2 separate regions of the Homo sapiens genome follow, and region 1 is reported to be linked to region 2. The links are microRNA targets in miRTarBase. Many come from high-throughput screens and were not tested one by one. Region 2 holds a microRNA gene; the other region holds the end of a gene's coding sequence.
Evidence for each region. The annotated mature microRNA hsa-miR-6511a-5p reads CAGGCAGAAGUGGGGCUGACAGG and lies in region 2 at 1,059-1,081, opposite strand. An mRNA with a match to its seed (bases 2 to 7 or 8) in the 3' UTR can be bound and repressed. Matches are read on the target gene's strand: a 7mer-m8 pairs with bases 2 to 8, a 7mer-A1 pairs with bases 2 to 7 and ends in A, and an 8mer does both.

Region 1 (3,000 bases), not on the chromosome of region 2:
GTAACTTATGACAGGACTTACAATATTTAAATATGTAGATTTAATATGTATGACAACTACAGCATAAAAGACAGGTATGATAAATGGATGTACATACTTACAAGATTTCTACATTTTATGTGAAGTGGCACATCAACTCTAGGTAGACTGAAAAATTAAGAATGTATATTGTAATCACTAGAACATCCAACTTAAAAAAATTATTAAAACAGTATAGCTAAAGAGCCAATAAATTAAAATACAATTATAAAATAATCTTATCTAAACAGGAAACATGTAAATTAGAAACCTATTAATAATTACATTTAATGTTAAACTTATTAAAAGATACAGAGAGAACAGATAAAAATGCAAGTCTCAAGTATATGTTGTTTAAAGAAACTACTTTAAATAGGCACAGAAGCACAAAGTAAATTAATAGAAAGAGGTATACTGTGCAAACACTAAGCTTAAGAAGGCTGCAGTGGCTATATTCACATAAGATAAAGTAGATTTCAAACCCAAATTACCAGAGACAGAGGGAAATTTCATAATGATAAAATGGTCAATACATTAGGAAGACATAAGTTATTAGAGCTTCATACAAAAACTGGTAGAATTTAAGAAATAGACAATTCCACAATCATAATTGAAGATTTTAACATCCTTTCTCAGCACCTGATAGAAATAAACAAAAGGATCAGTAAAGACATAGAAGATCTGAACAATACTATCAACCACTTAATCTCATCGATATTACAAAACATATTAACCCAACAATTCAAATTACATATTGTTTTTCTTAGAGACATGGTCTCACTATACATTGCCCAGGCTGGTCTCGAAATGATCCTCCCACCTCAGCCTCTCAAATTACAGATTACAGCTGTAATCTCAGCATGTAATCTCATGCTGGATTACAGGCATGAGCCACCACACCTGGCCTAAAATACGCATTCTTTTAAACTGTGTATGGTACACTCACCATGACAGACAACATATTGGGTCATAAAACGAGTCTCAATAAAACTAAGAGGATTGAAATCATAAAGAGGATATTTTCTGACCTCAATGGAATTAAAGTAGAAATCAGCAACAAGAAGATATTAAGAGGAAAAAAAACAAATGTTTGCTGATCAGACAACCCACTTCTGATAATCCATGGGTCAAAGAAGAACTGAGGGAGGAAATTAGAAAATAATCAGAGGCTGGGCATGGTGGCTCACACCTGTAATCCCAGCACTTTGGGAGGCCAAAGTGGGTGGATCACCTGAGGTCAGGAGTTCGAGACCAGCCTGGCCAATGTGGTGAAACCCCATCTCTACTAAAAATACAAAAATCAGCCAGGTATGGTGGCTGGAGCCTGTAATCCCAGCTACTGAGGAGGCTGAGGCAGGAGAATCGCTTGAACCCAGGAGGCAGAGGTTGCAGTGAGCTGAGATCGTACCATTGCACTCTAGCCTGGGCAACAAAAGCGAAATTCCATCTCAAAAAGAAAAAAAAAAGAAAATTAGAACTGAATAATAAAAATACGACATAATAAAATTGTAAAGTCGCAACTAAAGTAATGCTTAAAAGAAAATGTATAGCTTTAAATATGTATTTTAAATAACGTCTAAGATCAATGACCTAAGGCTTATCTTAAGGAACTAAAGAAAAAAGATCAAAGGAGACTCAAGCTAAATAGAAGAAAGAAAATAACAGAAATTAATTATATAAACAATTGAGAAAAATAAAACCAAAGGTTGGTTCTTTAAAAGTTATATCGTCGGCCAGGCACGGTGGCTCACGCCTGTAATCCCAGCACTCTGGGAGGCTGAGGCGGGTGGACCACGAGGTAAAGAGATCGAGACCATCCTGGCTAACACAGTGAAACCCAGTCTCCACTAAAAATATAAAAAATTAGCCGGGCGTGGTGGTGGGAGCCTGTAGTCCCAGCTACTGGGGAGGCTGAGGCAGGAGAATGGCATGAACCCGGAAGGCAGAGCTTGCAGTAAGCCGAGATCGCGCCACTGCACTCCAGCCTGGGAGACAGTGTAAGACTGTCTCAAAAAAAATAAAATAAAATAAAAAGTCAGATCAGTAAAACTGATAAACCCCTACCCAACCTGATTAGGAAAGTGAGAACAGAAATTACCAGTATCATAATGAAAAGGAAATTATCAACACAGCTCCTAAAGACATTAAAAGGGTAAGAAGGGACCATTATAAATAACCTTATGTCTACAAATTTGATAACCTGGGTCAAAAGGATAGATTTCTTGGATAGATTCATTACCTAAATGACACCAAGATCAAACCAAAAAATGTGAATAGCCCTATATTTATTAAATACACTATAGAAAACCAGACAAAGAAAATTTAAGGCCCAGATGGTTTCAGACATTAATTCTACAGCCCTGACAAGGAAAAAGGGGATAGTTAGAATTGGGTTACTAAAAAGTTAGCTTTTAATATCAACAGGAATACTGGTCAAGAGTCCACATTATGCAGGTTGTAAATGGTAGACACTATAAACAAATAGGAATCAGCTCTGATGATACTCATTTTTTCTTCCCTTTCAAAGGCTTGGCAAATAAAGCCGGGTCAATTTGCTCCTTTGCCAGTCCTCTGACAGAGAAGAGTCTTGCTGCCCGCTCCTGCAGAGTGCCCCCACATTTCAGTCCAAGGGCCATCAGTTCACATTTGAGCTTCTCCAAACCCAGCAACTCCAGTTCTGCAACAGAGGTGAACGCCAATAAATCTATAGTTTCCTTATCAATAACCTGAGGGAAAAAAATAAGAAAATATTTAAAACAGGCTCCTTCCTCTGAATAAAGACTCTTTAACTGTCAACTACATTTCTTGAGAAATTTTCATTTAATTTGCCATACCTTGCAACTGAATTTTAATCATCATCCATCCACATGTTATTCCATAAGTATTCTCAACACACATAATAACTAATTTTTCATCTATACATTTAGAAACAAGCATTCAGAACAGTAACAGAAGTATAGCATTCCCAAACAGATTTTTAAT
Region 2 (3,395 bases):
GGGCTGCATTGTGGAAAGCAGACGCCGGAGAGGGCCTGGTGGGTGTGGCTGCTGGGAGCGGAACGTCGGGGTGCTGCTTCAGGGTCACTGGGATTTATCTCTGGGGCCCGGGATGAGCCCTCCGCAAAGCTCCAGGCAGGGGAACAGGTCTTGGTCCCCAGCACGCATGCAGCAGATGTGAGGTCCCCTCCCAGGCTGCACTCACCTCGTTCAGCACAGTGACCAGGGCCAGCGAGTACTCGATGACGTGCTGGGGATCGGCCTGCCGCAGCAGCCCCGGGAGCACACTAGCGGTGAGCCCGTGCAGCCAGACTGTGAGCCCCATTGCGCTGCCGTTGGGCTCTGGGAGGGTGATGGCCAGAGACCTACGAGCAGAGGGGGGTGGTGAGCAGGTGGCAGTCTCGGGGGCGCCCTCCCACGGCCTGGCTCACCTGTTGAGGGCGACCACAGCGGCTCCCAGCTGGTCCTGCACCACCACGGCCAGGCCCACCTCGAAGTGTGGCCTGAAACCCGGGGGCAGCACGGCTCCGTAGCCGGAGAGGCTGCCCTTGTAGACACAGAACTCCTCGCAGTGGCCCTGGCGACAGCGCTGCAGCAGCAGGGCGTACACCAGCGGGGCGCCAGCATCCTCCGCGTCATGCCAGCCTGAGGGACGGTCCCCACGGCATCACAGGAGGGCTCCGTGACCTCACAGAGTCGGGGGATCCCGCTGCTCCCCCTACGCAGGCCTGCACTCACCCATGCATTCGAAGTGCACCTTGGTGGTGAGAGCGTGCACAGCGCCCAGTGGGAAGAGGCAGCAAGAGCCCCCCAGCGGCGGGCGGTTGGGGGACAGGGGGATGGAGGCGCAGCCCTCCTCCTCGCCAGAGCGGCCCAGCACCGTCAGCGTGAAGGTGTATCCCTCGCCGTCCCGCAGCACGCCCCGCCGCAGCACCAGTCACATGCCTGCGCTGCCCGTGGATGTGGTGGTCTCATCCAGCACCAGCGTCTTGTTGCTGAACGTACGTGCAGCCCACCGCTGCAGGCAGAAGGGATGGTGAGGGGGCGCAACCCTCTGCCCTGTCAGCCCCACTTCTGCCTGCAGGCCCCGTCCCCTCGGCCATGGGACCCATCCCCAACCCGCCCACACCCCGCTCAACACTCACCCCTCGCTTGGAGCCGCTGCTGCAATTGAGGCAGCGGCCCTCCAGGTACACGTAGGAGCTGCGGCTCACTTCGTACACGGCCTGTGCCTTGCAGGACACACACTCCAAGGACACAATGGGCACCCGGCCACTGCGGATCAGCACCTGGCGTGGGAGTGGGGTTACCTCCAACACAGGTCTATTTGGCCTGCTGGAAGGTCTGGGGGACCCGTGGAGGATGCTGCTCCCAAACTCCAGGTTTCCCAGGGGCCTGGCCACTGCCGGTGAGCTCACCCCCTCCCAGGATACTCATCCGGTTTGCCACCTTCCAACCTGGGCGGCGGAAGGGCATACACAGGGCAGAGGACACTGGGGTGTGCGTTCTGGTGTACTGGACCCAGCTGGACCCTGGCAGGAGGCAGGCAATGCTCACTGAGGGCCCCTGGGGGGATGCGTGTGGGAACAGACGTATGTGTGGGTGTGAGGACCGCAGTTGCCACGTAGGCCTGACTCACAGACTCCTGCAGCCCTTAGCCAGGGCCTGGGTCAGGAGGCTGAGCCGGGATGGAACCTGCTCCCACACCCTCCCCTCAGACGACCCCTCTGGGCAGACCCCCAATCAGGCCAGCTGAGGAAAGCAGGGACTGGGGAACAGACACCCACTCTGGGGTACCAGCAGGCCCCAGTCAGGGAGGCGCACACGCTCACAGAGGGCAGGGAGGCGCACACGCTCACAGGCACCTGCTGCGTCCGGTTCTCGAAGGCATTAGATGCCAGCAAGGTCAGGACGTACTCACCTGTGGGGACAGGCCCAAGTGGGGCAGCCGCGGCACCCCCACCTGCTCCCCACCCGCTCGGCAGAAGCCCCCCGCCTGAGGAGCCCGGGGTGAACGGCTGCACCTGCGGCCCAGCCTTAAGGGTCCCAGGCTCCCAAGCCACGTGCGGGACGGAGCACAGGTGCAGCAGCACTGAGGGCTGCCTGGTGAGGACGGCACCGCCTCCAAGTGCAGCTGCACTCGGGGCAGCAGAGCAGCAAGAGCCAGGCCGCGGTGGGGGGCAGTTCAGGGGGCCCAGCTTCCCTGTCCACTCCTCCCACGCCTGGCCCCTCCCTCACCCCAGTAGGGGCCTAAGCCATCAGCCCAGGTGAGGTCACAGTGAGGGCTGTTGGGGAGGAAGCGGGGCAGCTTGACTGGGGGACTGGGGGGGCCCCGTGCTCAGAGCCTGAAAGGCAGTGGCCCCCTCACCCCCTCATCCCTCACCTGGGGCAGCGTAGGTGTGGGTGACATTGTGCTCCACCAGCACCTGGGCCACCGAGGGGTCTGGAACCGGGAAGGACTCGTTGTACGGAGGCTGGAACTGGTGGAGGGCCTGCTCCCCATCCCCAAAGGTCCACCTGCCGGGGCGGTGGGAGGCAGTGAGTGAACCGGGACAGGGGTGCGCAGTGGCGGGGCACAGGTGCGCGGTGGCGGGGCAGGGGGTGCTTGGGACCCAGCCGAGGCTCCACTCTGCAGTCACGCCCCGGGCCTCCATTCAGGGCCCACCCGGCTGTGCTGAGGCCTCTCCCGGCTCCCGTGCAGCCTCAGGGCTCCTGTGCACCCAGTACCTCCCAACAGACAGGGAAACCGAGGCTCAGAAAAGCAACCCCCTGATGTGGGGTCCCTCGGCTGAGGCTGGAGCCGGGACAAGAGCCTGGTGCCCGGACAAGAGCCTGGTGCCCACCCCAAACCGGCCCCTGAGTCACTCACAGGAAGGCCACCTCCACGGCCGAGTCCACCAGCACGCCCGCCGTCAGTGCCAGCGTGGCATTGGGGGACAGCACGGCTGGCACTGTAGAGACCCGCAGGCCCTGCATCCTGTTCATCCGCTCCACGGTGATGTTGTAGTTCACGGTGACGTTGCTCACGTGGTTGGAGGCCGTCAGCTGCAGGGACAGGCATCAGTGGGCCCAGGTGGCAGGTGAGAGGCCTGCCCTGCTTGGCGTCCCTCCCTCCACTCACCACAGCCATGGCAGCGTCCTCGGGCAGCATGAAGCAGAGCAGAAGGCAGAGGTGAAGGTGGAGCCCGCCCCCGCCCCGCCCCATCCCCTCCCCTCCCCACTCCCGCCCACCTACTGAGAGCTTGAAGACCGCCGCGCTCTGATAAATGACATTGAAGACCACGTTCTGGAAGGTCAGGGACTGCTTGTCGTTGATGGTCCACCGGAAGACCATGTCCGAGCCGGCCTCCACCACGGGGCTGTACCTCTGCGGGGGGACTGGTGTCAGCCTGGGC

Region 1: the mRNA of SDE2 is a reported target of hsa-miR-6511a-5p. Seed matches in the 3' UTR shown: 7mer-m8 at 1,959-1,965 and 7mer-m8 at 1,396-1,402.

What each region holds. Positions count from the first base shown.
Region 1 is chr1:225,982,780-225,985,779 of GRCh38, forward strand. SDE2 (spliceosome associated SDE2) reads right to left here. Exons shown (of 7, transcript NM_152608.4): 7 at 1-2,744. The coding sequence ends at 2,523. Among named protein-coding and RNA genes, the nearest start is that of SDE2, 15 kb to the right of the region's middle.
Region 2 is chr16:16,322,278-16,325,672 of GRCh38, reverse strand. MIR6511A2 (microRNA 6511a-2) reads right to left here and starts at 1,085; the gene lies at 1,019-1,085. It also overlaps the pseudogene LOC131696449 and the pseudogene PKD1P1. RefSeq lists enhancers at 696-1,498, 1,568-2,423.